4 linked regions of the Homo sapiens genome follow. The protein of the gene in region 3 interacts with the protein of the main gene of each other region in a pairwise test. Each region holds a gene or a part of one and is shown on either strand. Other genes may lie near its edges.

Region 1 (8,876 bases), on a different chromosome or scaffold from region 3:
CTAATTCCAAAAAAACAGCACATATGCTGAGGAAAGTATAATACGTAATATATATGGTTTAAGCAATGTAAAATTCCATGAATATGTTCCTTTCATCTTAAAATTTGTGATTTAAAAAACATTGATATTACTATAAAGAATTATTATTATTTCCCTTGATTTACAGAGTATTGTTACAATCACATTTGAAGTACCAGGAAATGCAAAGGAAGAACATCTTAATATGTTTATTCAGGTGAATGCAATTTTTAACTGATTAATGATTTATCAATGGTTTTGTTACATAGTTGTTGCTATTAGCGATGGTTGGTCTTATTAAAATATGTCACTTGATACAGAATCTTCTGTGGGAAAAGAATGTGAGAAACAAGGACAATCACTGCATGGAGGTCATAAGGCTGAAGGTACAGTTTACTGTTGCAGACTTTTGGACAAAGTCCTTTTCTTGGCTGTTATAAAAACTATATTTGGTTTTAAACAGAAACACTGGTTTTAGTACAAATCATCTTTGTCTACTTTCATTTTTCTTTATTATTTTCATGACTGAAAAGGAGCTTTGGAAATCACTGCATAAGGCTTGATTTATTTGCACAACTTTCTTTAGGGTTGCAGCTAGAACAAACCTGTGTGCTTTGAAATGTTACCTTCTGCTCTCTGTTCCCAAGTACAGAGAAATAATGTTGCAAATCTCACTTCTGCTGAACATTATGCTTCCTGATGCATTTAGCAGACACTAAACATTTGTTGTACTCTAAACAAAGTTACAAAGGACTAGAAGAATTCTTGTTCTGTATTTAGAAACCCACTCACATTACTTGATATTTGGGTATTTAAGTCATGAAAGGTATTTCTTCTAGGAAGCAGTGATTCTAAAGTGTATGCTTAACCAGTCAGTTGAGTGTCTACTCTTGTGTGTTCACAAGTGTGCACAAAGTTTTTGGTAAATTAAGAATATTATTTCAAATAAATTAATTTCATCCCCATAGGAGCCAGTTTATCAGATAATTCGTTTCTCATTTCTGCAAATCAATACACAATGAGCTCATATTCAGATAAATTGAGCTCATATCCAGATAAATATAATAGTTTTTCTTTATTTCAACATTGTTCATTGATTGCAACCCATTTCTAAAACAAATTATTTAATATAACAAAACTCCTTTAACTTCTCAACTTTTCCCACTAAAACTGTGAAACATTATATAAAATCTTTAATCAATAGGATATGATACATATTTCATCATTTTGTTTCAGGTTTTGGTTGTGATAAATAACACTGAAAAACCATCCTAATATATGTATTAACTTTATCATTAGAAAAGGGGATTGTTCAAAAAAAAATCAATACACAGAAACCTTTTTTGAAAATTAAAAACATTAAGAAACTTCTTGTAATTCACAAATAATTGGAATTAAGTAATTTTCTCAGCTTAAGAGTTTGTATTTTTTAAGTGAATATCAGTAATTAATCCATTAACATTGATGCTCTATTTCTGCTTTTAAGTTTGAACTGAGGCTGATTAATGTTCAGTCAATTCTCCTTTGAGCAGGGATTGGTGTCAATCAAAGACAAATCACAACAAGTGATTGTCCAGGGTGTCCATGAGCTCTATGATCTGGAGGAGACTCCAGTGAGCTGGAAGGATGACACTGAGAGAACAAATCGATTGGTCCTCATTGGTAAGTCTCAAAGGATTCACAGTTTTGAAACAAAGTGAAAAATATATTTGAAAGGGATATCATGTGCCACTTAAACAGATTAACCATTCAGGTCCTCTTTTAAAACTAAATAAGCTTGTGGTCAATGTTTCATCTTTGTCACATTACAACGTTCGTAAAAGCTTGTTAGGACTTTTGTTCTTCTTCAATTTTAGAAAAGTGGTTAATCCAAGGACCAATGTGACTTTGATGTACTGACCTGGAAAGTTAAAGATGGAATCACTCAATTACTATTCTTTTTGTAAATTTTTAAACACCATAAAGCATTTAATGAACTGGAATTGATAGGTGAACTGTGTCATTTTAATAAGCATAATGTAATCACGTCATATTTTGTTTTGTTTGCAGGCAGAAATTTAGATAAGGATATCCTTAAACAGCTGTTTATAGCTACTGTGACAGAAACAGAAAAGCAGTGGACAACACATTTCAAAGAAGATCAAGTTTGTACATAACACTAGAGGCATTTCTTATCAAAAGGATTGGATAATAAAAATAAGTTTCTACTGGGTATATTTCAAGCATTTATTTATTACTTTAGTTACGAATTCCAATATACTTTAAAATGGTATTTGTTTTACAGCATACATAAAATGTAGCAAATCAGTACTGTAAAACATTTAACATTCATACAATTATATATAATATCCTTTTTTTTAAAGAATGGTATTTCACAAAAATATCTTTTGAAATTGGCTTTGGAGTTTACATATACTGAACATGAAAGTTTATAATAATGATGATACAACTTTCAACATTGTCATTTTTTCTTAGAACTTCAGCTGATTGCAGAGATATAATGATTACATTGTTATTAAATTTTTTTAACACAAGTAAGTGTCACCATTTTATGACATGAAATAAAAGGTTATGACTGTTATTGATGTTGATGTTGACGACCTGATCACCTGGCTGAAGGAGTGTTTGTCAGGTTTCTCCATTGTAAAGTTACTCTTTTCCCCCATTTCATACTGTGCTCTTTGGAAGGAAATCACTATGCACAGCCCACACTAAAGGAATGGGGAGTTGTAGTGTACTTTCTTGGGAGTGGTCTACATAATTAATTGAAATTCTTCTGCGAGGGACAGTTGTCCCTTTCGCTTTATTAGTTCGATCATTTATGTTTATCAGTGTGGACACATGAATATTTTATACTTTGGGTTACAATTTAATACTACTTTATTTTGTTGCTCAAATTATCCCAGCTTTGACCATTGGGAACTCTTTCCGTTATCTCCTGTTCCCCCCTTTGACATACCCCCATCAATGTGGGTTTTGTGTTTTGTTTTTGAGCGCCTCCTTATTTTTCTCCTGTATTTTTAAATAACCCCAATCCCTATTGAAGCTGGCTCTAGGAAAACTAACAATACTCCCTTTCCCAGGTCATCCGATTCCTATGCTGATGGAGGAAATTTGCCTCACATGCTGGGGGGCGCTGGGGAGGAGGTGTCTGGGATTATGTGGTTGAATAAGACACCTGGCCTGGCCCTCCTGGAGCTTAGTTTAGTAGGTCACACAAGCAGTCATTGGTAAATTTGGGATTCAAACAAATCTGTTAGGCTCAAACCTGTCTGTTATTTGTCCTCCAAGCTTCATATAAACTGAGGAGCCTTAAAGGGTAAAAACTTCAGGAGCAGCAAAGTTTCAAAAAAAGATCAGCAAGAAAGCTCTTTTCCAGATTTTATCCTGAAGGCACTAGCTACTTTAAGCTATTTTTTATTATATTTTGCCCTTGCAGTTGGCGTTTGATTTCTCACTGAACATTCATTGTCATAATTATAGACACTATGTGACTATCAAGGGCATAATATTCTTTCATGCTGCATTTTTATTAGATGGCACCTCAAAGTTTTCCCAAGTAGGTGGGTTTTAAATTATGAATATATACCGTGGCATAGTATCTTACTTAGTATTTTAATAAGATTCTTATTTATATAACAAATTTTTTTTATTCCTCTGTAGTGCTACTTTAGTCTCTGAGCTAATTTTCATGAAGCCAATCTAAAAATCGTGTTATTTCTAAGGATGTGGAGCGAGTGAGATGAACAGTTGTGCTGTCATATTGCCCCTCCCCAGTGCAGATAGTGAATGAGGACCCACTGATTTAAAGGCAACACTGCAGCCCCTTCTTGCCTCATTGAAGTCCCAAGTTTTATTACAGTAAAAGCACTTAATGTTGACATTTCTGAAAGAATGAAGAGGCTGGGCATGGCGGCTCACGCCGGTAATCCCAGCACTTTGGGAGGCTGAGGCAAGCGGATCATGAGGTCAGGACATCGAGACCATCCTGGCTAACACGGTGAAACCCCGTCTCTACTAAAAATACAAAAAATTAGCCAGGCGTGGTGGCGAGCGCCTGTAGTCCCATCTACTTGGGAGGCTGAGGCAGGAGAATGGCGTGAACCCAGGAGGCGGAGCTTGCAGTGAGCTGAGATCGCCCCACTGCACTCCAGCCTGGGCGACAGAGCGACTCCGTCTCAAAAAAAAAAAAAAAAAAAAAAAAAAAAAAAAGAATGAAGAGCCAGAGCCAGGCATAGTGGCACGCCTGTAGTCCCACCTACTCAGGAGGCTGAGGCGGGAGGATCACTTGAGCCCAGGAATTCAAAGCCAGCCTGCGCAACATAGACCCTGTCTCTAAAAATGAATTGGTTATAAAGGATGAAGAAAGGAAGGAGGAAAGGGAGAGAGAGAAGCCCTTATAGAGTGGGTGCATTTCTTGTATGTGGGGCCACTTTGTAAGAACAGGATTTTTCAAACTGGGCCCATACTGGTATGTGTGAAATCAATTTAGTTGGTTATGGCCATTTTTTTTTAAAAGGAAATATCAGTGATCACTATAGTGTAAGTATATTGTTTCGTGAAACCCATCTTAGTTATGTATTATGTCTGTATGTGTGAGATTGTGATATAAAATGTATTTCTGTGGTTAAATATTCAAAGAAATTGGAGAACCATTGCTACAAGGGGACAGAGGACTCCGTGTGAGCTCTCCTGCCTTCCCTGAGTAAACTTACACAATTTAGTGCTGGGACATTTGAGCCTTTTCTGAAAATTTGAGTCAGGGAGAGCATCTTGAGGAGGTGGGAAGGAAGGTAGAAGGAGCAAAGCAACACCCCCCTGAAGCCTGGGAATATTGTCAGAACCTTAAATATAATTCAGCTCACCATTCTGGGTAAGGACAGACTCTACCAATGAAAATGGGTGATTACCAGCTGTGAAACACAAAAACATACTTTTACGGTTACACATTCCTTTACAAACAACCGTGTACATTTCAGCCTCCTGCCCCACCATTTCTTTTCTCCAGGCGGGAAGGCTGCATGTTGAGGTGGTCATAGAATGTTGAGTATCATACTTTCCTACCTCGCTTTTATTTGCGCGGGTTTAAATGCGCCTTAACAGAACCCGTGCAAAGGCTTGCCAACTGTCTGGCTGCACCGGATGAGTAGAGCATCTTCCTTGGTGGCAGGTGGGTGCGAGGAGGAGGGGGCTGGGCTTTTCTCCGGACGGGTGTTTGCCCAGAAGACCATCATCCCTGGACTACGTTAGGAGGAAGTGGCACCGCTCCGAGGTAGGGGAAGAAGGGTTATAAAGGGGGGAGTCCACCACACATGGTCTTGAAGAAGCTTTTATAAAAGGCAAAGGCATCTTTGCCGGACGTTGTTGCAAAGGAGTAGAAACAAGCAGACGAAAACATCCCAAAGGGTAACCACTAGCGTTCCTGCTTCTTGCAACATTCATCCCAGGCTTCCAGCTCAGCCCGCCCCAGGCCAGGTGATCGGCCGCCACATCCCCTGCGACTGAAGCACCTGCTCCTCCATGAACCTGCCAAGAGCTGAGCGCCTTCGCTCCACACCGCAGCGCAGCCTCCGGGACTCCGATGGGGAAGACGGTAAAATCGATGTCCTGGGAGAGGAGGAAGATGAAGACGAGGTGGAAGACGAGGAGGAGGCGGCGAGCCAGCAGTTCCTAGAGCAGTCGCTCCAGCCGGGGCTGCAGGTGGCCCGGTGGGGCGGGGTTGCGCTTCCCCGAGAGCACATCGAGGGCGGCGGCGGCCCGAGCGACCCCTCAGAGTTTGGCACCAAGTTCAGGGCACCGCCAAGGTCTGCGGCGGCCTCTGAAGATGCCCGGCAGCCGGCAAAGCCCCCCTACTCGTACATCGCGCTCATCACCATGGCCATCCTGCAAAACCCGCACAAGCGCCTCACGCTCAGCGGCATCTGCGCCTTCATTAGTGGCCGCTTCCCCTACTACCGCCGCAAGTTCCCCGCCTGGCAGAACAGCATCCGCCACAACCTCTCGCTGAACGACTGCTTCGTTAAGATCCCCCGCGAGCCGGGCCACCCAGGCAAGGGCAACTACTGGAGCCTGGACCCCGCCTCCCAAGACATGTTCGACAATGGCAGCTTTCTCCGGCGTAGGAAGCGTTTCAAGCGCCACCAACTGACCCCGGGAGCCCACCTGCCCCACCCCTTCCCTCTACCTGCTGCACACGCCGCCCTGCACAACCCCCGCCCAGGCCCTCTGCTTGGGGCCCCTGCCCCGCCGCAGCCAGTCCCGGGGGCCTACCCCAACACCGCCCCCGGGAGACGCCCTTACGCTCTGCTGCACCCGCATCCTCTTCGCTACCTACTGCTCTCGGCCCCCGTCTATGCCGGGGCACCGAAGAAAGCAGAAGGCGCGGCCCTGGCGACCCCGGCACCCTTCCCGTGCTGCAGCCCTCACTTGGTCCTCAGCCTTGGGAGGAGGGCAAGGGTCTGGCGTCGCCACCGGGAGGCGGATGCATCTCTTTCAGCATTGAGAGTATTATGCAAGGGGTCAGGGGAGCGGGTACAGGGGCTGCGCAGAATTTGTCCCCGACCGCGTGGAGCTACTGCCACCTGCTCCAGCGACCATCAAGCCTGTTGCATCCCCAGACCGCTGCCCCTTTGCTGCAAGTGTCCGCCGCCGCCGCTGCTCGGACAATTTTGCAGCAATAGCAGCAGCATCAGGAGGAGGACTGCGCCAACGGCTGCGCTCCCACCAAGGGCGCGGTGCTGGGCGGGCACCTGTCGGCCTCGTCGGCCCTGCTGAGGTATCAGGCAGTGGCAGAGGGCTCTAGGCTGACATCGCTGGCTGCCCCTTTGGGCGGAGAGGGGACCTCACCAGTTTTTTTAGTATCGCCCACGCCCAGTTCCCTGGCCAACTCCGCAGGGCCCTCCTAGAGCCAGGTGGGAGTGGGGAGCGACCCGCAGCTGCTCACTCCACCTTGCGCGGCCCATACTGGGCGTGTGCATCTGAATCCCGCTGGAGAGCAAACACGAACTTCTGTTCGCTGCAAAATGGTTAGAAAGAAACAGCTGGATTACGTTCCTCTAAAAACCACCTGAACGTAACCTTCGCAGGGCGTCAAGTCATCTTTTCTTGCCTTCGGTTGTGGCTTCTATGGCTGTCCCGATTTGCGCATTTCCTGGGGTACTATGAACGTGAGTGGGGTATTTTGTTCTGGCATTAAAAGAAAAACAAGCAAGCAAACAAAAACACAGCCTCCGATGCCAAACATGTTCCCCCTTCTTCACTTCCTTGGAGCTGGAAGTATTATTCCTAAGTCTAGTGCAAAATGCTTCTACTCTCTGTGTCTTCCTGATAGGGATGTTTAATGTAAGTAGGATATTAATTTCAGAACATTGATTTCTTATCTGTGTGTCTGACGTGCCATCTTTAATGTTAAAATTAAGGTGTTAAAATTAAGCCTAGTTATATAGACGAAATAAAATGCTAAGTCACTACACTACATCGTTTATTTTCTATTACATCTCATTCTTCCCTTTCTAAATGGAACTTTTTAAAACCTACGTTATTTTCCCTCAAACAATTTATTTTCACAATTCATATTTATTATAGATAGCAGAAGTAATCCATTTTAATATGGCCTTTAAAAATTCCAAATATTTGAGGTTGAAAATGTCCTGGCTTTTAAAATAGGAAATTTACTATTTATGAGACTTCTAAAAGAAAAGAATAGGAGGGCATGTAAATATATTCTCCATTTATTTTTCATCACCCCTCAACAAGCTGGAAAACCATTTGAGATAAATTTGGAATGTAGTGGCCAACATGTACTCAGAGAAAATAAAAGGCTATAAATTATATATATATATATATATATATATTTTAAGCACTAGAATTTTCAAAACTTATTTCTTAAAAAAAAAAACAACTCTGAAAAGACTTTGCAACTAGAAAGGTTTAAGTGTTACTCGGCGTCAGGGGACGGAGTGGGGGGAAACCAGACAAGAACGCCCATCATGAATTGCTCCCCACAAAGAAAACAAATTTCTAGGAACTTGGCCGTTTTCCCCTGTCCTGAGTGGGGTTCCCGATTCCGTGCCGCTTTGAGGGAAGCTGCTCCGTGAATGTGAGAAAGTTTTTCCCCCAGCCCCCATCTACTCCCCACCCCCAGCTATGAATTTCTTATTTCAGGAGGGAGGACAAACATGGAGACACACATTTTTACAGGAGTCTAATTGGCCGATTTTTCTCCGGCTTCTCTTCTCCATCCCGTCTCTTGGAATTTCTTGGCACGCCCTACCTGAGATCCCCTACGGGAGATTTCCTCTTGGCTCCTGCGGTTCTGAGGACGTTCTGAAAAGTTCCCAAGCCCCACCTTTGGTAGCTGCCCAGACCCCAGCTTCCAATTCTTCCCTCTTCTTTGCACAGGTAGCCGTCAGCCCCATAGCACCACCAGCGTCCAAAATAGACCACTTTTAGCAAATCCGGCAGGGCTGGGGCAGTCTAAGAGTTTGGAAACAAACTGAGAATAGAGGGGTCCTATTTCATGCCAGGTTCTCGCTGGTTTACATTCCAACTCCCCTCTGTCCGTTGTGCGAAAACGTCTCCAGGCCGACCTTCATTCATTTATTGTCAACAAACGTCCTGGGAGAGCGGCTACAGCCGGCCGCTGAACCCAGAAGGGACTTTCTCTAGGCTTTCTTGGCACCCTCCCAATTATCTTCCTTCTCTTGCCCGAGGGCAGACCAACACAGCTACGAACATGGGTGACTGAGGGTCAGACCCCTTCCCGGAACCGCCTCCAAGCTCCTAATTTTTGCCTAATGTTAAACCATATCCAAAGATGAATATTTAAACAATCAATTCAGTGGCGGAGTAAATTAAAC
Region 2 (8,242 bases), on a different chromosome or scaffold from region 3:
TATCATATTGCCACCCATTTGTACAGACTTCAGAACCCAGGTTTCTGATAAATTCTCCAGTGTATCTTCCATGACATTATGTGCTCACTTTAGTCCAGCAAGAAGACTGAAGCAAACAAAAACTGGTAAAAAAGATGGGGATGGCCAGGTGCAGTGGCTCATGCCTGTAATCGCAGCACTTTGGGAGGCCAAGGCAGTCGGATCACGAGGTCAGGATATCGAGACCATCCTGGCTAACACGGTGAAACCCCGTCCCTACTAAAAAATATTAAAACAATTAGCCGAGCATGGTGGCGGGAGCCTGTAGTCCCAGCTACTTGGGAGGCGGAGGCAGGAGAAAGGCGTGAATCCGGGAGGCGGAGCTTGCCGCGAGCCGAGATCGCGCCACTGCACTCCAGCATGGGCGACAGAGTGAGACTCTGTCTCAAAAAAAAAAAAAAAAAAAAAGATGGGGATGTCCTTTGCAGTCACAGGATGTGAAATTAGTTTTAGTTTCAGAGTCAATGTCTCAGAGTCAAGCTGGGTGGATAAGGTGAATGATATCCTTTGTGTGAGGGACGGGGAGGGAAAGGCTAGTTCTGTTGCATCCAGGTCCCAATAACAGTAATCAGTGAGGTTTTAGGGCTTTGATGTTCTTATTTTCTCTGATCCTAGGTTCTTGGTAGGACTTCTTGCTTAATAAATGATAATGTAATAAAAGTAACCAGCACAGTGTCCCTGACACAGAAAAGGCAGATGTTTTTGAAAATGAATTTAACAAGAAATTGAGGCCTGGAGAAGTGACACAGCTTGTACAGGGTCACAGAGCTAACACGTGGTCTCTGGTCTTCCTTTTCATAAAGCTAATCTTTTTTTTTCCTTTTTTTTGAGACAGAATTTTGCTCTTGTTGCTCAGGCTGGAGTGCAATGGTACGATCTCAGCTCACTGCAACCTCCGCCTCCCAGGTTCAAGCAATTCTCCTGCCTCAGCCTCCCGAGTAGCTAGGATTACAGGCATACACTACCATGCCAGGCTAATTTTGGGTTTTTAGTAGAGACAGGCCTTCTCCATGTTGGTCAGGCTGGTCTTGAACTCCCGACTTCAAGTGATCCACCTGCCTCGGCCTCACAAAGTGCTGGGATTACGGATGTGAGCCACTGCGCCCGACCTCATAAAGTTAATCTTCTTTTTTTTTTTTTGAGAGGAATCTTGCTCTGTTGCCAGGCTGGAGTGCACTGGCTCGATCTTGGCTCACTGCAACCTCCGACTCCCGGGTTCAGGTGATTCCCCTGCCTCAGCCTCTGGAGTAGCTGGGACTACAGGTGCGCACCACAGGTGCACCACCACACCTAGCTAGTTTTTGTATTTTTAGTAGAGACGGGGTTTCACCATGTTGGCCAGGATGGTCTCAATCTCTTGACCTTGTGATCCGCCTACCTTGGCCTCCCAAAGTGCTTGGCCACCGCGCTGGGCCAAGTTAATCTTATAATTACGTAAGTTATATACCAGTGCCTTCTCCAAGTAAAAAGCGAAAACGTTAGACTGCAGTCCCTTTGGGCCAGCAACCCCAATCACAAACCTCTTTCCCACCCCTCAGAGCCAGCCACTGTTATCAAGTTTGTATATTCCTTTCAGAATCCTTTTCTCCTGATCTGTCATTTTTTTTCTTTTTGAGGCGGACTTTTGCGCTTGTCACCCAGGCTGGAGGGCAATGGCATGATCTCAGCTTACTGCAACCTCCGCCTTCCAGGTTCAAGTGATTCTCCTGCCTCAGCCTCCCGGGTAGCTGGGATGACAGGCACCCGCCACCATGCCTGGCTAATTTTTGTATTTTTAGTAGAGACGGGGTTTCACCATGTTGGCCAGGCTGGTCTTGAACTCTGGACCTCAGGTGATCCGCCCGCCTTGGCCTCCCAAAGTGTTGGGATTACAGGCATGAGCCACCATGCCTGGCCTGATCTGTCCATTAAGTCTTTGACTCTCAAGGGTGGTTTTTATCTCTGATGCTCCCACACATTTCTATAAAGCAGCAGGGCAAACAGGAGGAAGACGAACAGACAAGACACAATCCTAGCTCATTGTCAAAAGAGGTGAGATAAGATACACCTACACATGAATGGTGATGATGATAAGTTCTGTTTTTTTTTTGTTTTTTTTTTTTTGAGATGGAGTCTCACTCTGCCTCCCAGGCTGGAGTGCAGTGGCACAATTTTGGATCACGACAACCTCTGCCTCCTGGGTTCAAGTGATTCTCCTGCCTCAGCTTCCCAAGTAGCTGGGATTACAGGCGCCCGCCACCACGCCCGGCTAATTTTTTGTATTTTTTTAGTAAAGACAGGGTTTCACCATGTTGGCCAGGCTGGTCACAAACTCCTGACCTCAGGTGATCCACCCACCTTGGCCTCCCAAAGTGCTGGGATTACATGCGTGAGCCATCACGCCCGGCCCAGTTCTGTTTGTTAAAGGCACAGTTTAAGCATTCTTTGTTTTTTTTTTTGTTTGAGACAGAGTCTTGCTCTGTCGAACAGCCTGGAGTGCAGTGGTGCTATCTTGGCTCACTGCAACCTCCACCTCCTGTGTTCAAGTGATTCTCCTACCTCAGCCTCCTGAGTAGCTGGGATTACAGGCGTGTGCCACCACGCCAGGCTATTTTTTTTTTTTTTTTTTGAGACGGAGTCTTGCTCTGTCGCTCAGGCTGGAGTGCAGTGGCGCGATCTCGACCCACTGCAAACTCCGCACGCCATTCTCCTGCCTCAGCCTCCCGAGTAGCTGGGACTACAGGCGCCCGCCACCACGCCCGGCTAATTTTTTTGTATTTTTAGTAGAGACTGGGTTTCACCGTGTTAGCCAGGATGGTCTCGATCTCCTGACCTCGTGATCGGCCCGCCTTGGCCTCCCAAAGTGTTGGGATTACAGGCGTGAGCCACCGCGCCCGGACATTTTTTTGTATTTTTAACAGAGACGGGGTTTCACCGTGTTGGTCAGGCTGGTCTCAAACTCCGTATCTTGTGATCCGCCCTCCTCCGGCTCCCAAAGTGCTGAGATTACAGGTGTGAGCCACCACGCCCGGCAGCATTCTTTAATTCAGATGAATAACAAAGGCTTTATTTGAACTAGATAGGGCTGTTTAAGATGTCAATTGTTTTACTTAATAACTAGCAAATTAGTAATTAGCATAGTGCCCTGTACAAAGTTCAGTATAAGCTAATTTCCCCTTTCTACCTTACTTAGACCTTTTGGGCCCGATGGGTAGAGTGTGAAAATGATTACTGATACTTACTGAGGGTTTATTATGTGTCAAGCAGGCATTTTACATAATCTCATTTAATTTTCACAAGCCGGTGAAGTGTTATTACAGAGGAAAGCTCCAATTGAGATAAGGCATGCCGGGACTGCAAAGTCCTTGTATGTAACTAGCTTGGGATAAAACAGGCCAGTAAGTAGACCTTGAGAGCTTGTTTAGAGGACCTTGAGAGCTTGTTAACACGGGCGTGCAGCTACTCCTATATCCTTGACTTGTCCTCTTCTATGGGGGATGCTCCTCCTTTTCGACCGAATATGCAGCTTCGGGAGGGACGCACATGGAGAGGTGCGGGAGGAAGGGGCCACCCGCCTAGACAGCCAGATCAGCCGAATCAGCCCTGGCGATCTATGGGGTGACAAGATAGCCAGAACGCCCTCACATCCAAACAGGCCAGTAAATGGAAAATACTTTAAAACACCATGCTACAATTATAAACCATCATCTTATTTATTCGTAATTCTTGGAGTTGACAACAGGTCAGATCCTATTGAGAGGAGGTCATTAATTTTCTAAAGACAGAAAACCTGGGTCTCTTCGGTCAACAAACAACTCTAAGGTTCTTTTTTTAAATCCTTAAATAGGGAAAATCCTGGACTCAAGGAGTTGATTATATGATATAACAGAAATAAACGGCTGACTTGGAGTAGGCGTTCAGTAGATTCTAGTCTTTTCACCCAGAAGGGGCTTGGGAGGGCAAAAGTAAAACCGCACTGAAAAAGACTAAAAGTGGGCGCACCTTCCGCCTTGCCGAGGCTCTCGCTGCTAGCCGTTGGCGTTTTCCCGCGCAGGGGGCAGGGCGCAGAGCGAGCCCAGGAACGTGGGAGCGGAACCCCACCCCCCGCCAGGACTACACCTCCCAGCAGGCACCACGCTCCGCCACATGGCGGGCGGCATCCAATGGTATTAGTCCTTCAAGCCAGCTTAGTCCGCTTTCCGTCCCGGCCTTCCCTCGGCTCTAAGGTCTCTAGGGGGTTCGTCTAGAAGCCCGCTGGAGAAAGGCTGCGGTAGGGGTCGCCTTGGCTGTGCAGCATGTTGGGAGTCGTGGTCCCCTCGTGCAACATTTGGGAGGCCAGGCTTGCCCTGAGTGGTTGGACCACATCACGTGATGAGCACAGGGCGGCCACAGGGGAGTAACCTGTGGTGCTTTGTGAGGTCATCACGGCGCGACGACGAGCTGCAGTTGTGGGCACCTTGTATGCGGTGGGTAATACTCTCCTGATGACTCCGAGTACAATACATATTATCAAGTCTCCCTTATTTGTTCCTTTCTGTGGTCCCCACCTCCACGCGGTTGGCTTCGCGGGGTTGGGGTGGAGGTGGTGGCTGGAAGAGGCCGCGCGCCGCCTAGGCTGACTCTGAAGCCGCGCACGAGCGACGTGTTGTGGCTCCTCCTTCGCCCGTGACGCGAGGTCACGTGACGGGTTGGGCAGCCTGTGCCGCCGCCGCCGCTTTGTAAGAGGCACATTGGCAGGTAACGAGCGGCGGCGGCGGCAGCGGGTCTTGGGTCCTCCGAGAGCAGCAGCGGTAATTGCCATCCTCTCCCTCTCCTTCCCTCTTCCAGGGCCCTGAGCGCTGCAGCGTGTGCTTTCTAATTCTGGGTTCAGCTCGTCTGAAACCCCACCGCCTGCAGACTGCCCCGGCGCCCACCCGTGAGGACCGGGCCGAGCTTCACTCGCCAGGTCCACGGTCCCTCTACGTCCAGGCCCGGGCTCCCTCCTTCCTCTTCCCCTCACGTTGCCCTGTGCTTCTTCCTACTTTCCCCCGTCCAGGTCGGCTGGGCCCCACCCAGCCCCAGGGGTGCCTCCCCTCCCCCCTTTCGGGTTTCTGCCCTGGAGGGTGTGGTTTTCTCTCCCACCTCGGTGCCTGCCAGTAGACTGGAGCTTCCCCGCCACGCTGTCGGTCCCATCTCATCACCTTTCCGCTTTCACGCCCGTAGCTAGTCTTGGGACTGGCCCTGTTATAGCCCCAACTTATGCGCTCTCTAACCTTTCCTGGCTTACCCGGAGTCACAGTTCAGTTCTACTTCTTTTCAATTCTGTAGGGCATTGGTCTCAATTGGGACTCAGTTTTCCTCCACACCCGCCGTTCCTGTAGTCTGGTTATATCACAGTTCATTATTTAATGTAGGTTTTTGAGCGCTTTGTAAACGGCAAAGCTCTCTCTGTTAATAATACATACTCAAAATGTTATTCTTTCATTGGTGCATTACAACTCAGTTGTTTGCCTCTGAATCACTTTCCCACTCGGCTTTTCCACATTTTCCCCTGAGTTTTTAGTCTAATTAGTTGCCCACGCATCTCAACTGTCACCACTCTGGTCTCTAATGCTTGCTCGCTTTAGGGGTTGATCCCATCATTATTACTGTTATTTCCTGTTTGATGTAATCCAGTCATTTACTACCACTTCTATTGGATATTGTTTTTACCTCACATTCAAGGAAGGTATATGGTTTGCCAGTATTTAGGCTTATTGTCTTTCTACAGCACCAGTGTATCCTAACAGTTGAGAGATTTTAAAAAATTACTATTAATTTTAGAGATATGGTCTCCATATGTTGCCCAGGCTGGCCTCCAGCTCCTGGGTTTAAGCGATTCTTTCACCTCAGCCTCCTGAGTATCTGGGATTACAGTGTGCACCACGGTGCTCAGCTAGTTGAGGGTTTTTTCAGGTCTCCATAAGGTATCCAAAGATTATCTTTTATTTGAAGGGCATATAATTTCTTGGGTGAACCCAGTTCTTATATTCCTCTTCCGTTGTGACAGCACTTTTTTCAACAAGGGGTATGCGACTAGTTATTGCATTCCTCACTTTTCACTGTGAATTGTGTATCCGTTTTAGTGCCAGTTTGTGAAAGGTGGAAGGAAGTTGAACATGATACCTAAGCTCTCCCGTATCCTACATTGGTGTGTTCCCCTTTTACCTCAGGAAAGGGAATGTATTCCACTCCCTGGAGATGATAGTTTCCTTCAATACACTCACCTGTGGAGCCCCTTCGCTAGGGTTGTCCTTCCATTGCTTTGAAGGCTTCTCTTATCATTAGGCAGAAGTGATTAGTTTCCCAAACTGCCCTTTTGCTTGCTGCCAGCATACTCCTGATTTTCCTACTTATGGCTAGTTGATACGTGTGACGAGAGATTTTCCCACAGCGCTGATTTCCCCCATTTGCTTCCCTGTTGCCTCTCACCCTCAATAATTATGAAACCTTTCAGAGAAGGAAGGTTTTTGTTGTGATTGAAATATGCCCGAAAGTGGTGGCATGGGAGAGAATGAGGCCATGGGAAAGGGTTGTGGTAATTGCCTCTCTTGCCTGTTTCCTGCTGCTCTGGTTTCCTCTGTCCTCCCTTTAAATGTGGGCTGGATCAGCAGTAGTCACATGGAGTTGCCTTTAGAACTATATTGGAACAACAATAACACCTCTGCTTCCCTTTCCTGGTTACTAGTGCAGTCTATGTAGTGATCACCAGGAGTGTCTCTCTTAGTATTAGCCTGAGTGACTTTTATTGTATGGGGAGAAATGGTGTGATGGTGTGAGAACATGTAGACTAATAGGTTTATTTCAATATGTACTTGTATTGTGATGGGAACTGGTCCCGGTATCTACCCTCTTAAGTATAAAATATGTGTAGAAAGTACAAACCTTTCTTGAAGGTTTGGAGTGGTCTGAAGTGAAGCCTTCTTTTTTTTTTTTTTTTTTTTTTTTTTTTTGAGATGGAGTCTTGTTCTGTCGCCCAGGCTGGAGTGCAGTGGCCTGATCTCGGCTCACTGCAAGCTCCGCCTCCCGGGTTCACGCCATTCTCCTGGCTCAGCCTCCCGAGTAGCTGGCACTACAGGCACCCACCACCACGCCCGGCTAATTTTTTGTATTTTTCAGTAGAGATGGGGTTTCACTGTGTTAGCCGGGATGGTCTTGATCTCCTGACCCCGTGATCCGCCTGCCTCCCAAAGTGCTGGGATTGCAGGCGTGAGCCACCCCGCCCGGCATGAAGCCTTTACTTCTAAAATGTTAGCTTTGAATTGTTGATTTCCCAGTCCTCTTTTTTTTTTTTTTAAATGATGATTTATTGTTAAGATTTCCTTTGTTAATAAGACACTTTGTGGGGTTGGGGGGTGGGGGTGGTTAAGTATATTAGCAAGGGTTAATGCCTGCTCTAAAGAAGCAGTCTGCAGGCATTTACAGATTGTAAAGTTCTCTGCCCTTAAGCACATCTGTCTTTATTTTTCCTTGTGAGAAACCTGTATGTCAGCAAATACCCGTTCATTCTTAGTTGTTATTTTGAGTAAATGGAGCTCTTAGTTGTTATTTTGAGTAAATGGAGCGTTCTTAAAAGCTAAGTGTTATGGTACCCATGGTGTTGACTGGTAAGTTAGTAGATCTCTGATAGATTTTAGAAGCAGCCGTTTTTTCCAAAGAGTGGAGATACAACCTGAAGGAAGGCAAAGAGAGGGAGGACATGTAGGGAATATCACCATGTAATCTTTGTGGTAGATTTTGAAGTAATTTTGCCCCAACTATCAAGTATTTAGGAATAGGATCCTTTTTTTACTAACTCAAAGAATCAAATTTATCAGATTAGTTTTTACAATTTTAATGTAAACCACTTATGCTGATATTTCCTGCTGAGTTTACTTGACATTTTTTAAGTTTCTCAAAGATGCTCCTTAAAAATTTTCTTTTGTGACTGGGCACTGTGGCTCATGTCTGTAATCCCAGCACTTTGGGAGGCGGAGGCGGGCGGGTCACGAGGTCGGGAGTTCGAGACTAACCTAACCAACATGGTGAAACCCCGTCTCTACTAAAAATACAAAAATGAGCCTGGTGTGGTGGCGCGTGCCTGTAGTCCCAGCTGCTCCAGAGGCTGAGGCGGTAGAATTGCTTGAACCTGGGAGGTGGAGGTTGCTGTGAGCCATGTGCCATTGGACTTCATCCAGCCTGGATGGAGCAAGACTCCGTCTCAAAA
Region 3 (8,319 bases):
CTTCTTATCTTATGTCATCCTGTCTACCTCTCCTCATTCTGTGGAACAATCTCATGTACCTCCCAGAGCAGATTTTTATCTCTACCACTAGTCTCCTCTAAAACAAGCCAGTACTCTTTGAAAATGAGCTAGTTACAGTTTAGGGGCAGGATATCTTATTATCAAAAAGCACAGATGCTTTCAAGAGTGCCTTCAGAAAGCATCAAGAAGCCACTCAGCTGAAGAAAGAGAATCTAATGGCTAAATTGTGACACAAGTGTAAAATTCAAAGTAAAAATTACAGTCTATTACAACCAACTAAGGCTGAAAGGTACCCTGGGTATAAGATGATTAAAATGAGATATATTACAGTAGAATGTGTTAAAGAAAAGACATACCTTCTGGAGGGCGCAGTAGCTCACGCCTGTAATCCCGGCATTTTGGGAGACTGAGGCAGGTGGATCACGAGATCAAGAGATCGAGACCATCCTGGCCAATATGGTGAAACCCCGTCTCTACTAAAAATATTAAAAATTAGCTGGGCATGGTGGCGCATGCCTGTAGTCCCAGCTACTCGGGAGGCTGAGGCAGAAGAATCACTTGATCCCGGGAGGCGGAGACTGCAGTGAGTCAAGATCATGCCACTGCACTCTAGCCTGGCAAAAGAGCCAGACTCCATCTCAAAAAAAAAAAAAAAAAAAAAAAAAAAAAAAGACATACTTTCTGATAATGGTTTGGCTTTATTCCTACCCAAATCTCACCTTGAATTGTAATAATCCCCACATGTCAACAGTGAGGCCAGGTGGAGATAACTGAATCATGGGGACAGTTTCCCCCATACTGTTCTCATGGTAGTGAATAAGTCTCACAAGATCTGACAGTTTTATAAATGGGAGTTCCCCGCACAAGTTCTCTTGCCTGCCACCATGTAAGACATGACTTTGTTCCTCATTTGCCTTCCACCATGATTGTGAGAACTCCCCAGCCATGTGGAACTGTGAGTCAACTAAACCTCCTTCCTTTATAAATCACCCAGTCTTGGGTATATCTTTATTAGCAGCGTGAGAACAGACTAATACAGTAAACTGGTACCAGTACAGCGGAATGCTACTGAAAAGATAACTGAAAATGTGGAAGCAACTTTGGAAACAGGTAAAAGGCAGAGGTTGGAACAGTTTGGAGGGCTCAGAAGAAGACAGAAAGATGTGGGAAAGTTTGGAACTTCCTAGAGACTTGCTGAGTGGCTTTGACCAAAATGCTGATAGTGATATGGACAATAAGGTCCAGGCTGCACTGGTCTCAGATGGAGATGAGGAACTAGTTGGGAACTGGAGTAAAGGTCACTATTGTTATGTAAAGAGACTGGTGGTATTTTGTCCCTGTCCTAGAGATCTGTGGAAGTTTGAACTTGAGAGAGATGATTTAGGGTATCTAGTAAAAGAAATTTCTAAGCAGCAAAGCCTTCAAGAAGAAGCAGAGCATAAAAGTTTGGAAAATTTGCCAACTGATGATGCAACAGAAAAGAAAAACCCATTTTCTGGGGAGAAATTCAAGCCTGCTGCAGAAATTTGCATAAGTAACAAGAAGTCCAATGTTAATCACCAAGACAATGGGCAAAATGTCTCCAGGGCAGGGATGGGCCATGGCTCACGCCTGTAATCCCAGCACTTTGGGAGGCTGAGGAGGGTGGATCACGAGGTCAGGAGATGGAGACCATCCTGGCTAACACGATGAAACCCCGTCTCTACTAAAAATACAAAAATTAGCCGGGCGTGGGGGCGGGCGCCTGTAGTCCCAGCTACTCGGGAGGCTGAGGCAGGAGAATGGTGCGAACCCAGGAGGCGGAGCTTGCAGTGAGCTGAGATCACGCCACTGCACTCCAGCCTGGGCCACTCCCTCCTGAAATGCAACTAAAATGAGAGTTAAGGAGAAAACAAGGCATAAATCCACAGAGAACAGCAGCAGACAAAAGCAGACGAGACACAACATTTTGAAAGTTCTAAGACAAACAGACAAGTGTCAACTAACATAAAATATGGCCACCTCTACTTTGTTATGTGCTAACAGAAGCCAAAACACAGCAAGCCAACTCCTGCCACATAAAAACAGACTCAGAAATTGGGGGTAAGAGAGAATTCTAGAGGTGGGGAGAAATCAGAAGAATTAATGGAAAGTCTTCAAAGGGGTCACTAGGCACCCTACCCAAGCAGACAGGGACCCTCCCTGATCCTGAAGATGATGCCTCTGGAGACTGGGCGTGGCCACACTACACACAGCTTAAAGTCGCAGGCCACACTTAGAAGAATATAGTCCGTGAAAGTCAAATTCTCCATCTTCTTCCTTACTTCTCAGACTCTAGCTCAGAGCAAAGGCATAGTCCCAAGAGGAAAGGCTCACTGATACTGACAACTGGGTGTTCTGTAATGAAAAAGCCAAACTTTGCCTAACACCCTCCAGAGAAGCTCACCAAGAGACAGACTTGAAGCAAACACACAGACTTCCAATCAGCTTTTCAGTACCTCTCTTAAATAGGAATACAGAGCAAGTATCATCAGTCTGAGTAGAAAAAAATACTGTTTTTCCTCTGCTCTCACGTCACAACAATCAACATAGAAGACTTCTGTGACCAAATGTGTGAGGGTTTCTCCCCACATACCAAGCAAGAAATCAATTATGCAGCAGGCCCATGCACAGTGTTGCGCATCTGTAATCCCAACATTTTAGGAGGAGAAGGTCAGGGGACCACTTGAGCTCAGGAGTTTGAGACTAGCCTAGGCAACATGGTGAAACCTCATCCATACAAAAATCAGCGGGGCATGGTGGCACACACCTGTAGTCCCAGCTACTGGGGGGCTGAGGTAAGAGGACCACTTGAGCCTGGGATGGGGAGGTTGCAGTGAGCCGTGATCACACCACTACATTCCAACCTGGGCAGGAGTGAGACCCGGTCTCAAAAAAAAAAAAAAATTCTTCAGCGAACACCAACTAGGTGTCCTGCAATTCAACTGTCACACTATCTACCTGGAGATAGCATCAGATCCCACAGGTTGAGGGCTCAGTCCCACAAGACTGCCCACCCTTCAGACACCAGCCACAAGTCAGGGCCTCTGGAACATGTGATCAACTAGCTTTAAGTCAGTGAGAAAGAAAAGTAGCTCAGAGCAATCTGAAGAACATAAAGCCGGCAAAATTTAGAAAATGGGTCTTTAGTTACCACAGCCCCAGCCACGCTCAGGGTTAACTGTTTAAAGGGACTTGGGGTTTTTTTAATCTTCCCTTTCCTGTAGTTTCCAGACAAGCTGATAAATTACCAAGACTGTTACTACAAGTTACACAATGTGACCCTCAATCATTTTCTTCATGTTCCTGGAATGTGTGGTACAAAGAACAATATACAGCCAACCAATAGTTTATGTTCAACTTAGAAACTGCCCCTATTTTTGCCCTTTAAAATCCCACTTCTAACTGTTGCTACTCAAAGCATATATTCAGAGCAACTTGAATCTATGCTTCCCAGGTTGCTGTCCTCAAATCTGGCCTAAATAAACTCTCTATTTATAGTAATTTTTGCTTTAGTTTCTTTCTTTAGGTCTATTAGAATTCCCCCATCTCCCTGTGTTTGATTAATTTGCTAGAGCAGCTCACAAAATTCAGGTAAACAATGACTTATATTTACCAGTTTATTATAAAGGGTATTACAAAGGACACAGATGAAGAGATGTATAGGGCAAGGTGTTAGTGTTCAGGCCTCTCCAGGCACACCACCCTCCCTCCAGGAACCTCCAGGTGTTCGGCTATTCTGGAGGCTCCCCAAACCCAATCCTTTTGGGTTTTTATGGAGGCCTCATTACATTAGCATGATTGATTAAACCAACAGCCACTGGTGATCAACATCACCTTGAACCCCTCTCTCCTTCCTGGAAGGTTGGGGGGCAGACATGAAAGTTCCAACCCTCTAAAGTCGCATAGGTGTTTCAGATGACCAGCTCCCATCCTGAAGGGAGTCTGCAGGCCATCAATCAATCATTAGCATACAAAAAGACATCATTTTGGAGATTTTTAAGGATTGTATTAAATAGGAGTTGTAAGGCAGGAAATGAGGTCAAAGACAAAATAAACATTTCACAGTACCACAATCAGACACTGGAGAAAAATCTAGACCATAAAAGATAGAGATTAAAGAAAATAAAATTTTCAAGAAAAAAACCTCAAGAATCAGAGACAATGCTGGGTACAAAAGAAAACTTTAAAAATATTACTTTACAGCTGGCCACAGTGGCTCACGCCTATAATCCCAACACTTTAGGAGGCCGAGGAGAGTAGATCACTTGAGGTCAGGAGTTCGAGACCAGCCTGGCCAACATGGTGAAACCCCGTCTCTACTAAAAATACAAAAATTAGTTGGGCGTGGTGGCAGGCTCCTGTAGTCCCAGCTACTCAGGAGGCTGAGGCAGGAGAATGGCGTGAACCCGGGAGGCGGAGCTTGCAGTGAGCCGAGATAGTGCCACTGCACTCCAGCCTGGGTGACTGGAGTGAGACTCCATCTCAAAAAAAAAAAAAACAAGAATAAAAAGAAATATTCAGAGCTCTCAATTAAAAATAATAACCAAAATTAAAAATTCAATACAAGAGTTGGAAAGATCAAGATGGAAGAAATCTCTCTGAAATGAAGAGCTAAAAAAAAAAAAAAAAAAGACCAAGAGATGGAAAAAAATTAGAGGATGAGCCTGGAATATAAAATATTCTGCTGGCTGGGCACAGTGGCTCATACCTGTTAATCACAGCACTTTGGGAGGCTGAGGTGGGTAGATCACTTGGGGTCAGGAGTTCAAGACGAGCCTGGCCAGTATGGTGAAACCCCATCTCTACTAAAAATACAAAAATTAGCCAGGCATGGTGGCACGCACTTGTAGTCCCAGCTACTGAGCAGGCTGAGGCAGGAGAATCACTTGAACCCGGGAGACGGAGGTTGCAGTGAGCTGAGATCCCACCACTGCATTCCAGCCTGGGCATCACAGCGAGACTCCGTCTCAAAAAAAAAAATTCTGCTTATAGGAGAATTTCATAAATAAACCACAGAGAAAAGAGCAGAGAAATAATACTATAAAACCATTTCCTGCAACAGGATAACACATTTCTAGATTCAAAAGATCCAATGACTGTCCAGCATGATGAATTTTAAAAGATTCTCCATAGGTAGGATGACTGAAATTTCATAACATCAAGGACAAAGAAGAGAACCTAAAAACTTCCCAAAGAAAAAAGCATATATAAAGGATCAACAATCAGCAAGACACAGGACATCTAGAGCAATACCTTCAAAATGCTAACGGAAAATTATTTCCAAGCCAGAATTCCACACCCAGTCAAATCATTAATCAAGGCCAGGCATGGTGGCTCTTGAGCATAATCCCAACACTTTGGGAAGCCAAGGTGGGAGAATCGCTTCAGCCCAGGAGTTTGAGACCAACCCAGCAACACAGTGAGACATTCTCAACAAAAAAATAAGAAGTTAGCTGCACATAGTGGTGCACGCCTGTAGTCCCACCTACTCGGGAGACTGAGGTAGGAAGATCGCTTGAGCCCAGAAGGTAGAAGCACAGTAAGCCATGAATGATCATGTCACTGCACTCCAGCCTGGGCGACAGAGTAGGATTCGGTCTTCAACTGGCAGGGGAGGAAATTCCCAGAAAGGCAGCTGTGCAGAAGGACTGGGGAGGAAAAAAAAAAAAAAAAACAGTCCAGACTGGAGCAGGACCGAGTACTACAGGGGAGGAAAAAAAGTAACTGACAAATTTCCTACAAGTTTTTGACTCACTGGTGGATTGAAGAGTTTTACAAGGCAGCAAAAGTCTTCTATGATCAAAAGTCAAAAGATTACATGTAAATCAATAGCAATTTTACCATATCCACAAAGATAAAATACTATTTTTTTTTTTTGAGACGGAGTCTCACTCTGTCACCCAGGCTGGAGGGCAGTGGCGCGATCTCAGCTCTCTGCAACCTCCACCTCCCAGGTTCATGCCATTCTCCTGCCTCAGCCTCCCGAATAGCTGGGACTACAGGCAACCGCCACCACACCCAGGTAATTTTTTTGTATTTTTAGTAGAGACAGGGTTTCACCGTGTCAGCCAGGATGGTCTCGATCTCCTGACCTCATGATCCACTTGCCTTGGCATCCCAAAGTGCTGGAATTACAGGTGTGAGCCACCACACCCAGCCAAAATACTATTTTAAAAAGTGCCAAAAAAAGGTGAAAATAGTTGTCTATAGTTTAAAAAGGGGGTGGACAAGAGATTGATATATTTTTTTTTATTCTAAGGTTTAAAGCACTATTTGGTTGTTTTTTTTGTTTGTTTGTTTTGAGACAGAGTTTCGCTCTTGTTGCCCAGGCTGGAGTATAGTGGCGCGATCTTGGCTCACTGCACCCATCGCCTTCCAGGTTCAAGCGATTCTCCTGCCTCAGCCTCCCAAGTAGCTGGGATTACAGGCGCCCACCACCACGCACAGCTGATTTTTGTACTTTTAGTACAGACGGGATTTTACCACGTTGGTCAGGCTGGTCTCAAACTCCTGACCTCAGGGGATCCACCCGCCTCAGCCTCCAAAAGTGCTGGCCTCCAAAAGCTTGAGCCACCACGCTCAGCCTATTTGGTCTTTCAATCTATGTACATGTATTATTTTGATAAATGTAAACATGTAAACAATAACCTGAATTATCTTCAACTATACCAAAACAAAAAAACCAACCTAAATTAATCTACCTATTTGAACCTTCCAACAGTGCTCTGCTTTCGTTTTTAAATTGGGGAGAGAAATTTAGAGAGTATCTTTAGAAACCAAAAATCATGAAGTATGATTTTGATCACATTTTGTTTTGTTTTTGTAGAGACGAGGTTTCACTATGTTGCCCAAGCTGGTCTCGAACTCCTGGGCTCAAGGGATTCTTCCATCTCAGCCTCCCAAAGTTCTGGGATTACAGGTATGAGCCACTGCAGTCAGCCTATCATATGCTTTTGAAATTTCACAGAACCCAGTGTTTGGGTATAAGCTTTAGAGTTAAAAGACCTATGTTCAGATCCTGACTCAATCGGACAAGTCACGTTTCCAAGCCTGATCTATAAAACGAAAATTCCCACCACCTACTTGACAGGATGTTCGGAAAATTGGGTGAAATAATATGTAAGTAGTTGGCATGGTGCCTCACAGTTACTAGAACTCGATAAATGGTAGCTGCTTTGACAGCAATTATTACTATTTACTACTATTATTACTATTACTTATTTTCCCCCTTACCAAAATTTGCCGAAAATATTCTAGAACAAGCTTGTCCAACTCATGGCCCCAGCCCAGGTCAGCTTTGAATGCAGCCCAACACAAATTTGTAAACTTTCTTAAAACGTTATGAGATTTTTTTGCAATTTTATTTTTTAGTGCATCAGCTATCATTAGGGTTAGTGTATTTTATGTATGGCCTTCTTCCAATGTGGCCCAAGAAAGTCTAAAGATTGGACAGCCCTGTTCTAAGAACAAGGACATCAAGCTGCTTCTCAAATGGCTCAGAAGACTTCTGTTTGATTGCCTTAGCATGCTGAATTTCACACCACTCCATAACTTAATTCAACATTTCACTATTTATATCCTGGAGCAAAACTGAATGCATAAACTAAAACTCATCAGATAAACACTAAGCCCTAGCTGTTGGTCTCTAGAGAATAAAACACCAGCAAACTAGCTGCAAAAGAACATTATTTTTATGCCAATAAAACCTATGCAAAGCTTTAAAATGTAAGCCATATTCAACAATTTAAATTATTTTAAATTTGAATTTGTATCTCTTTGAAAGCATTGAATCGAAACAGACAACAGATGGACAAAAAATACTGCCTTTGGAATCTGACAGTTCTAAGCCTGAAGCCTACTTTGCCTTCTACTCACTAGTATGACCTTCAGCAAAATTCTAAACCTCTCTAAGCCTCAGTTTTCTTACCTGTATGACCAGGCACAACCAATTACGTCATGGGGTTACTGTGACAATTAAAGGAGGTATGTCCAAACAGCCCTGTAGTAGATGGTCCAAAAGTGAGAATTGGCCAGGCGCGTTGGCTCACGCCTATAATCCCAACACTTTGGGAGGCCAAGGCAGGCGGATCACCTGAGGTCAGGAGTTCGAGACCAGCCTGACCAACATAGTGAAACCCCATCTCTATTAAAAATACAAAAAATTAGCCGAGCATGGTGGCGCACGCCTGTAATCCCAGCTATTTGGGGGGCAGAGGCAGGGGACTCCCTTGAACCCGGGAAGCGGAGGTTGCAGTGAGCCGAGACTGCGCCATCGCA
Region 4 (6,307 bases), on a different chromosome or scaffold from region 3:
CCTGGATTCTGTTCTGAGGTTTGCCATTGTCCTAGAGCAGGGTATTCAACTTCTCCAAAGCCCAGTGCTCTCATCTGTGAAAAGGGGGCATCTCCACACCCTCCTCACAGAACTGTGGAGCATGTTAAACTTAAAATGATGCACACAAATTACCTGACATACAGTAGCTACTGAGAAAACCCTTTGTTACACTGTCTAGACAAACCGTGCTTGACCCTTTATACTCTGGAGTCTCCTGGTGCTCAGGTCTATGATGAGACAAAAACACACTCTAGGATGGTTATTGGCAGTTAGGTCCAGCCCAGGGGAGCTGCCCGTTTAGAGAACGCTGGGGCAAGTTGCCTAAAACCTCAGCTCTCCACACCATAAGGTCCATGGTTCCAAGGTACCCATTTCCTCTCCGAACAGAAAGAGTCCAGCTCTTCCTATAAAGACAAATCATGCTGTCCCTCCTAAGAGCTGCAAGCAAGGATAGAGACAGAGCAAGACACACGCTTTGATCCAGGATGTTCTGTGATGTTTATAATTAGAAAAGTTGCTCGGAACAGGATAGAACCTTGGGAAGGCTGATGGGGAAGCAGTCCAGACTAGGCTGGACTTTGAAAGAGGGCCCACAGGAAGGAAAGGAAAGGTGGGGCAGGGGGCGGCGGTGTTCTAAGTCCCAAGGCAGGTTGCTAGGAGGGGTGCTGACTCAGGCTGGAGTGTAATCTGGAAACATCATCTTTGCCCAGTCCCTGTAGGGCTGGGGCCCACTGGGCAGGTGTCCCCAGGGCTGTGAGACATCTTTATGAAGTTCTCCAGGTGGCTGTTACAGGCAGTGGGCATTCTCTGGCTGTCACTGGGTCTTCTGCAGGTCCTCAGGCCCAAAGGAGGAGGGCAGCAGCTCCTGGACCGTCATGACAATATACGTACCATCCGGCTTGGTCATGTACACGGGCCAGTTGGTGCCAAACTGGAAAAGAGGCAAAGCTGGCGTGAGAGACACAGCGTGGCTGAGGGGGCTGAGACGGACTGGGTCTGAGTCTGACTCTGCCACTGTCTAATGTTCCTCTCTTTACCTTGATTTTCTCATCTGTAAAAGGGGAATGACCATAATTGTACCTGGATCATAGTGCTGCAGGGAGGAGGAAACGAAAGAATGCTGTGAAACTGAACAGTGCATGGTACATCGTGAACAGGCACCATTCAAGACTCACCCAGGGCTTTATAAGAGCAACAGCTAACCCCTGGAACCTCCTTCTGCTATGACAAATGACAACTAACACCCGCTTCCCTTCAGTATCCCCTTTACACCTCACACCAGGAGAAGCTGCAAGCCTGCTACATATACTCAGTGTATTAGTCTGTTCTCAAGCTGCTAATAAAGACATACTTGAGACCGGGTAATTTATAAAGAAAAGAGGTTTAGGCCGGGTGTTGTGGCGCACGCCTGTACTCCCAGCACTTTTGGGAGGCCGAGGCAGGCGGATCTCCTGAGGTCAGGAGTTCGAGATGAGCCTGGCCAACATGGTGAAACTTCATCTCTCCTAAAAATACAAAAATTAGCCAGGCGTGGTGGCAAGCACATGTAATCCCAGCTACTCAGAAGGCTTGAGGCAGGAGAATCTCTGGAACCCGGGAGGCAGAGGTTGCAGTGAGCCAAGATCACACCACTGCAGTCCAGCCTTGGCCATAGAGCGAGACTCGGTCTCAAAAAAAAAAAAAAATAAAATAAAATAAAAAAGGAGGTTTAATGGACTCACAGTTCCACATGGCTGGGGAAGCCTCACAACCATGGCGGAAGAGGAAGGAAGAGCAAAGGGATGTCTTACCTGGCAACAGGCAAGAGAGGACTTGTGTGAGGGAACCCCCATTTATAAAACCATCAGATCTCATGAGACTTATTCACTATCACGAGAACAGCGTGGGAAAGACCCGCCCCCATGATTCAATTGCCTCCCACCAGGTCCCTCCCATGACATGTGGGAATTATGGGAGCTACAATTCAAGATGAGATTTGAGTGGGGACACAGCCAAACCACACCACATAGATACTGCACATGCGTGGTTTCATAATCTACCCTGTGAGGTAGGTGCTATCATGATGCCCATTTTACTGATGAGGAAACTGAGGCTTAGCAGAGTAAAGTCAGCAAAGAAAAATTTGTCTCTTGATCTTTCTCCTATACTATGAGGAGCACTGTTTGTTTGCTGTGTGACCTTGGGAAAATGATAACTTTCTGGGGCTCACTCAGTGTCTTGGTCCATGGAATGGTTTTAGGGATGGGAGAATGCAGGATGGTAGGCAAGAGGTTAATCAGCAGCGGTGTCATGACAAGAGCCCTGGAGGTGGGGTCAACAGACCTAAGCTCTTTCTGGCCAGGTATTCTGAGATGCAGAGATGATTCATGTAAAGCATCTCTATGCACATAGTAGGTGTTCAATTAATAGATGCCATTCTTATTGATTATGTTGGTAGCCAGTGACTGCTCAGGTCTGCAGCCTCCTGTTCTTCCACACTTCTCTCTGAATCACCAAGTTATTCCCGGGCACACTCAATCTTCTGGCTTTTTTAGAATTAATGTTTTAAGGAAGGAAATTTTTCTGCTTGACAGGCTGTGCCTAAGGGTAGGTACAGACAAAAGTTGAGCCGAGGGCGAGTTTACGTGTCAGGTCCCTGGCCCCAACGCCTCATCTCTTATCATTTGCATTTGGTTTCAGTTTCCCCCCTGCCTCCTTCAGCTTTTTCATTTGCCTTCTCTCGTTTGCCAACATCCAATCTGTTTGGAGAAAACAGCACTGAGCAATTGGACCACGTCGGGGCCTTGGGAGCCAGGGACTTGGCGCCCTGTTGTGGCTTCCTTATATGACCTTCGACATTTCCACCGTGCAGGGCAGCTATTTCTGCCCCTCTCAAGTGAGACAAATTCCACCGTGTAAATTCACTGCTTTCCCGGTGGTATGTTTTTGGATTTGGGAAATGTGTCTGATTTGCACTCCTGGCAGGAAGCAGGAGGAAGATGGAAGTGTCTGCATCCCCAGATGCTTTGAAACCCCACGGCACAAAAACAAAGCTAAAACAACCCCCTTTCTCCCAAAACACAACTCCAAAAGCAGAAACTCCCACGGTACAAGCAGCATCCACATGCCAAAGTACCATTATGTTTCCTCCATGGTTGAAAATAATTTTGTCCAACTTACAGAACCACAAAGACAGAGAGGCAGCCGTGAGGAGCACGGGCTTCAGAGTCAGCCTGATGGGCCATGGATACCCATATGTCACCGCCTGGCAGGGGGCCCTTCAGTAAGTCATTTTACTCCTCTGAGCCTCAGAGTGGTCACTGGGAAATGGGAATAACGACATGCATTTCACTCAGTCTTGGGGAGGGGATTAAACAAGATGCTGTAGGTATGTATTTATTTTTGAGACCGGATCTCGCTCTGTCACCCAGGCAGGAGTGCAGTGGCTTGATCACAGCTCACTGCAGCCTTGACCTCCTAGGCTCTAGTGATCCTCCTACCTCAGCCTCTGGAGCAGCTAGGACCACAGGCGTGCACACTATGCCTTGCTAATTTTTAAATTGTTTGAAGGGACCGGGTTTTACTATGTGGCCCAGGCTGGTTTTGAATTCCTGGGCTAAGGTGATCCTCCTGCCTCAGTCTCCCAAAGTGCAGGGCTTACAGGTGTAAGCCATCATGCCCACAAGATGCCGTATTTCGAGGGGCTCTTGATATTATGCTGGAGCTCAGGGCCTGTGGGATTCTCTAATCTTTTGGGACTCTAGAGGACACAGATCTCTTTGAGAATCCACAATAGTTACTGACATTCCCCTTTCCCCAAACGTACATATAAACATGAAAACCTTCCCCTGAGCCTGGATTAAGAACCCATGATCTAAACTATCCCTTCGTTTTCATTTTTTTGTTTTGTTTTATTCCTTTTTTTTTTTTTTTGTGGAGAACAGGGTCTCGCTATGTTGCCCAGGCAGGTCTCGAACTCCTGGACCCAAGCGATCCTCCTGCCTCTGCCTCCCTAATTGCTGGGATTACAGGCTGAGCCACCATACCTGGCTTACCGTTTTGTTTTTAGAGTTGAAGAAATTGCAGCCTTCCATCAAGAGGACTTTTATAAAAAGTCCTTCAAGTTTCTTCTTGAAAATATCCAATGGCTTACCTTTATTCCCTTTTTTCCCAATGTATATAATGTGATAAAATATATATAATGTAAGATTTGCCATTTTAACCATGTTTAAGTGTACACTCCAGGCTGGGCGCGGTGGCTCACGCCTGTAATCCCAGCACTTTGGGAGGCCGAGGTGGGCAGATAACAAGGTCAGGAGTTCAAGACCATCCTGGCCAACATGGTGAAACCCAGTCTCTACTAAAAATACAAAAATTAGCCGGGCATGGTAGCTGGCGCCTGTAGTCCCAGCTACTCGGGAGGCTGAGGCAGGAGAATTGCTTGAACCCAGGAGGCGGAGGTTGCAGTGAGCTGAGACTCTACCACTGCACTCCAGCCTGGGTGACAGAGTGAGACTCCGTCTCAAAAAAAAAAAAGTGTACACTTCAGTTTCCTTTATTCTTGGAATAAAATGTACCCTTCGTTCCATGGCCAGGCCCCATGTGATCTGGCCTCTGCCCACCCCTCTGACTTCAATCCCATTGCTTTCCTTCCACCTACCAGGCCCTAGCTCTCTAGCCCTCGTGGCCTTCTTGCCTCTTCTCAAATTCACCAAGGGTCTGAACTTGCTGGTTCTGAATCTCCTTTTTTGACCTTTGTCTGTCTCATTTTTTTCCTCATTATTTATATTTCTGCTCAAATGTCATGCTCAAAAAGAGGGCCTTCCTGGATATCTAAAGCAGGGGTTGGCAAACCTTTTTCTGTCAAGGACCAGACAGTAAATATCTTAGGTTTAGAGGCCATGTGGCCTTTGTCGTAATGGCTCACCTCTGCTGTGTCAGGGCAAAGTGGCTATGGACAATAGGTGAATGAATGGCCATGGCTGTATACCCATAAAACTTTATTTACAAATACAAGCAGCAGGCTGGATTTGGCCCAAGGGCTGTTGTTTGCTGACCCCAATCTGCAGTGTCCCCTGTTTGCCCGTTTGTCACTGGACTCCTTTTTTTTTTCTGCATTTTGTTTTCCTCTATAGCCCTCTTGACTCAGAAACGCCACTGTTTGTTTATTTATTTTGCTCCTTGTTTATCATCTGTCTCCTGCATTAGCCTATGAGCTCTGTGAGGGCAGGGCCTGGCCCATCTTTTCCCTGTGCCTCCCCAGAGCTACCTCAGGGCCTGGCACAAAGCAGACACTCACTCGGTAAGTATTTGTTAAATGAAGGAATAATTTCCAGTGACTCATGCAAGCGTAGGGAGGCCTTAGAAGTCAGCCAACCAAGCAAACAGGACAGTAGCTGTGTCTCCACGCCTGCCATGCCTGCCATGCCTGCAACTTGGCGTGGCTCCCATAGCCTGCGACAGGGAAGATATTTGCATTCCAGACAGCAAGAGAAGCTGCTTACCTCTCTCATGACTTGCCTGCAGGCCCCACATGGAGAGATAAAATCATCTTGCATGTCACTGGGGAAGCAAAGAATCAAACTCAAATTAGTCTCTCCCAAGGACTGAGGACAATTGCTAAGATTCAGGCCCTGAGACTCGGTCTGTTCCTGATTTGGGTCATACCCCATCAGGCAGTTCCTGATTCACAGATCCACTGTGTCCTGAAGGCTGAGAAGGCCACGTGGTGGCTTTCCACACTGCCACAAGGCAGGGCCATGGGCAGGACTTTCATTAGTGCCATCCATAAACGTTTACTGAGCACTTACCATCACCCACACCCGGGAATACAAAGGTCAAAGAGAATTTGTCTCTGTTATGTAAAAAACCAGCTGAGTTATCATGTTAAACAAAATGCAGCTGGGCTTGGTAGCTCACGCCTGTAATCCCAGCACTTTGGGAGGCCGAGGTGGGTGGATCACCTGAGGGCAGGAGTTCGAGACCAGCCTGGCCAACGTGGTAAAACACCGTCTTTACTAAAAATACAAAAATTACCCAGGCTTGGTGGTGGGCGCCTGTAGCTCCCAGCTACTCAGGAGGCTGAGGCAGAAGAATCGCTTGAATCCGGGAGGCAAAGGTTGCAGTGAGCCAAGACCGTGCCATAGCACCCCAGCCTGGGCAACAAGAATGAAAATCCTTCTCAAAAAAAAAAAAAATTGCAGAAGGAACACACAGTATGAGGGAGCTCATCCCTGCCTGTGGACTGAGAAGGAAGATTTTATGGAGGAGGAGGCATGTGTCCTGGTCCTTGGAGGAAGTGTAGAGT

The links.
Region 1: the proteins of PLEKHB2 (region 3) and FOXD4L3 interact in binary tests that used the Homo sapiens proteins (3 or more experiments, as listed by UniProt).
Region 2: the proteins of PLEKHB2 (region 3) and UBAP2 interact in binary tests that used the Homo sapiens proteins (3 or more experiments, as listed by UniProt).
Region 4: the proteins of PLEKHB2 (region 3) and CDA interact in binary tests that used the Homo sapiens proteins (3 or more experiments, as listed by UniProt).

What each region holds. Positions count from the first base shown.
Region 1 is NC_000009.12:68,297,414-68,306,289, forward strand, and holds FOXD4L3 (forkhead box protein D4-like 3), read left to right. Parts: upstream 1-5,453; 5' UTR 5,454-5,538; coding exon 5,539-6,792; 3' UTR 6,793-7,671; downstream 7,672-8,876. Other genes in the region: ZNG1C (zinc-regulated GTPase metalloprotein activator 1C), read left to right, coding at 167-235, 339-404, 1,551-1,680, 2,068-2,174.
Region 2 is NC_000009.12:34,045,391-34,053,632, reverse strand, and holds the start of UBAP2 (ubiquitin-associated protein 2), read left to right. Parts: upstream 1-4,745; 5' UTR 4,746-4,808; intron 4,809-8,242. UniProt on the Homo sapiens protein: Recruits the ubiquitination machinery to RNA polymerase II for polyubiquitination, removal and degradation, when the transcription-coupled nucleotide excision repair (TC-NER) machinery fails to resolve DNA damage. May promote the degradation of ANXA2.
Region 3 is NC_000002.12:131,107,715-131,116,033, reverse strand, and holds part of PLEKHB2 (pleckstrin homology domain-containing family B member 2), read right to left. Parts: intron 1-8,319. UniProt on the Homo sapiens protein: Involved in retrograde transport of recycling endosomes.
Region 4 is NC_000001.11:20,613,097-20,619,403, reverse strand, and holds the end of CDA (cytidine deaminase), read right to left. Parts: intron 5,563-6,307; coding exon 5,505-5,562; intron 953-5,504; coding exon 836-952; 3' UTR 501-835; downstream 1-500. UniProt on the Homo sapiens protein: This enzyme scavenges exogenous and endogenous cytidine and 2'-deoxycytidine for UMP synthesis.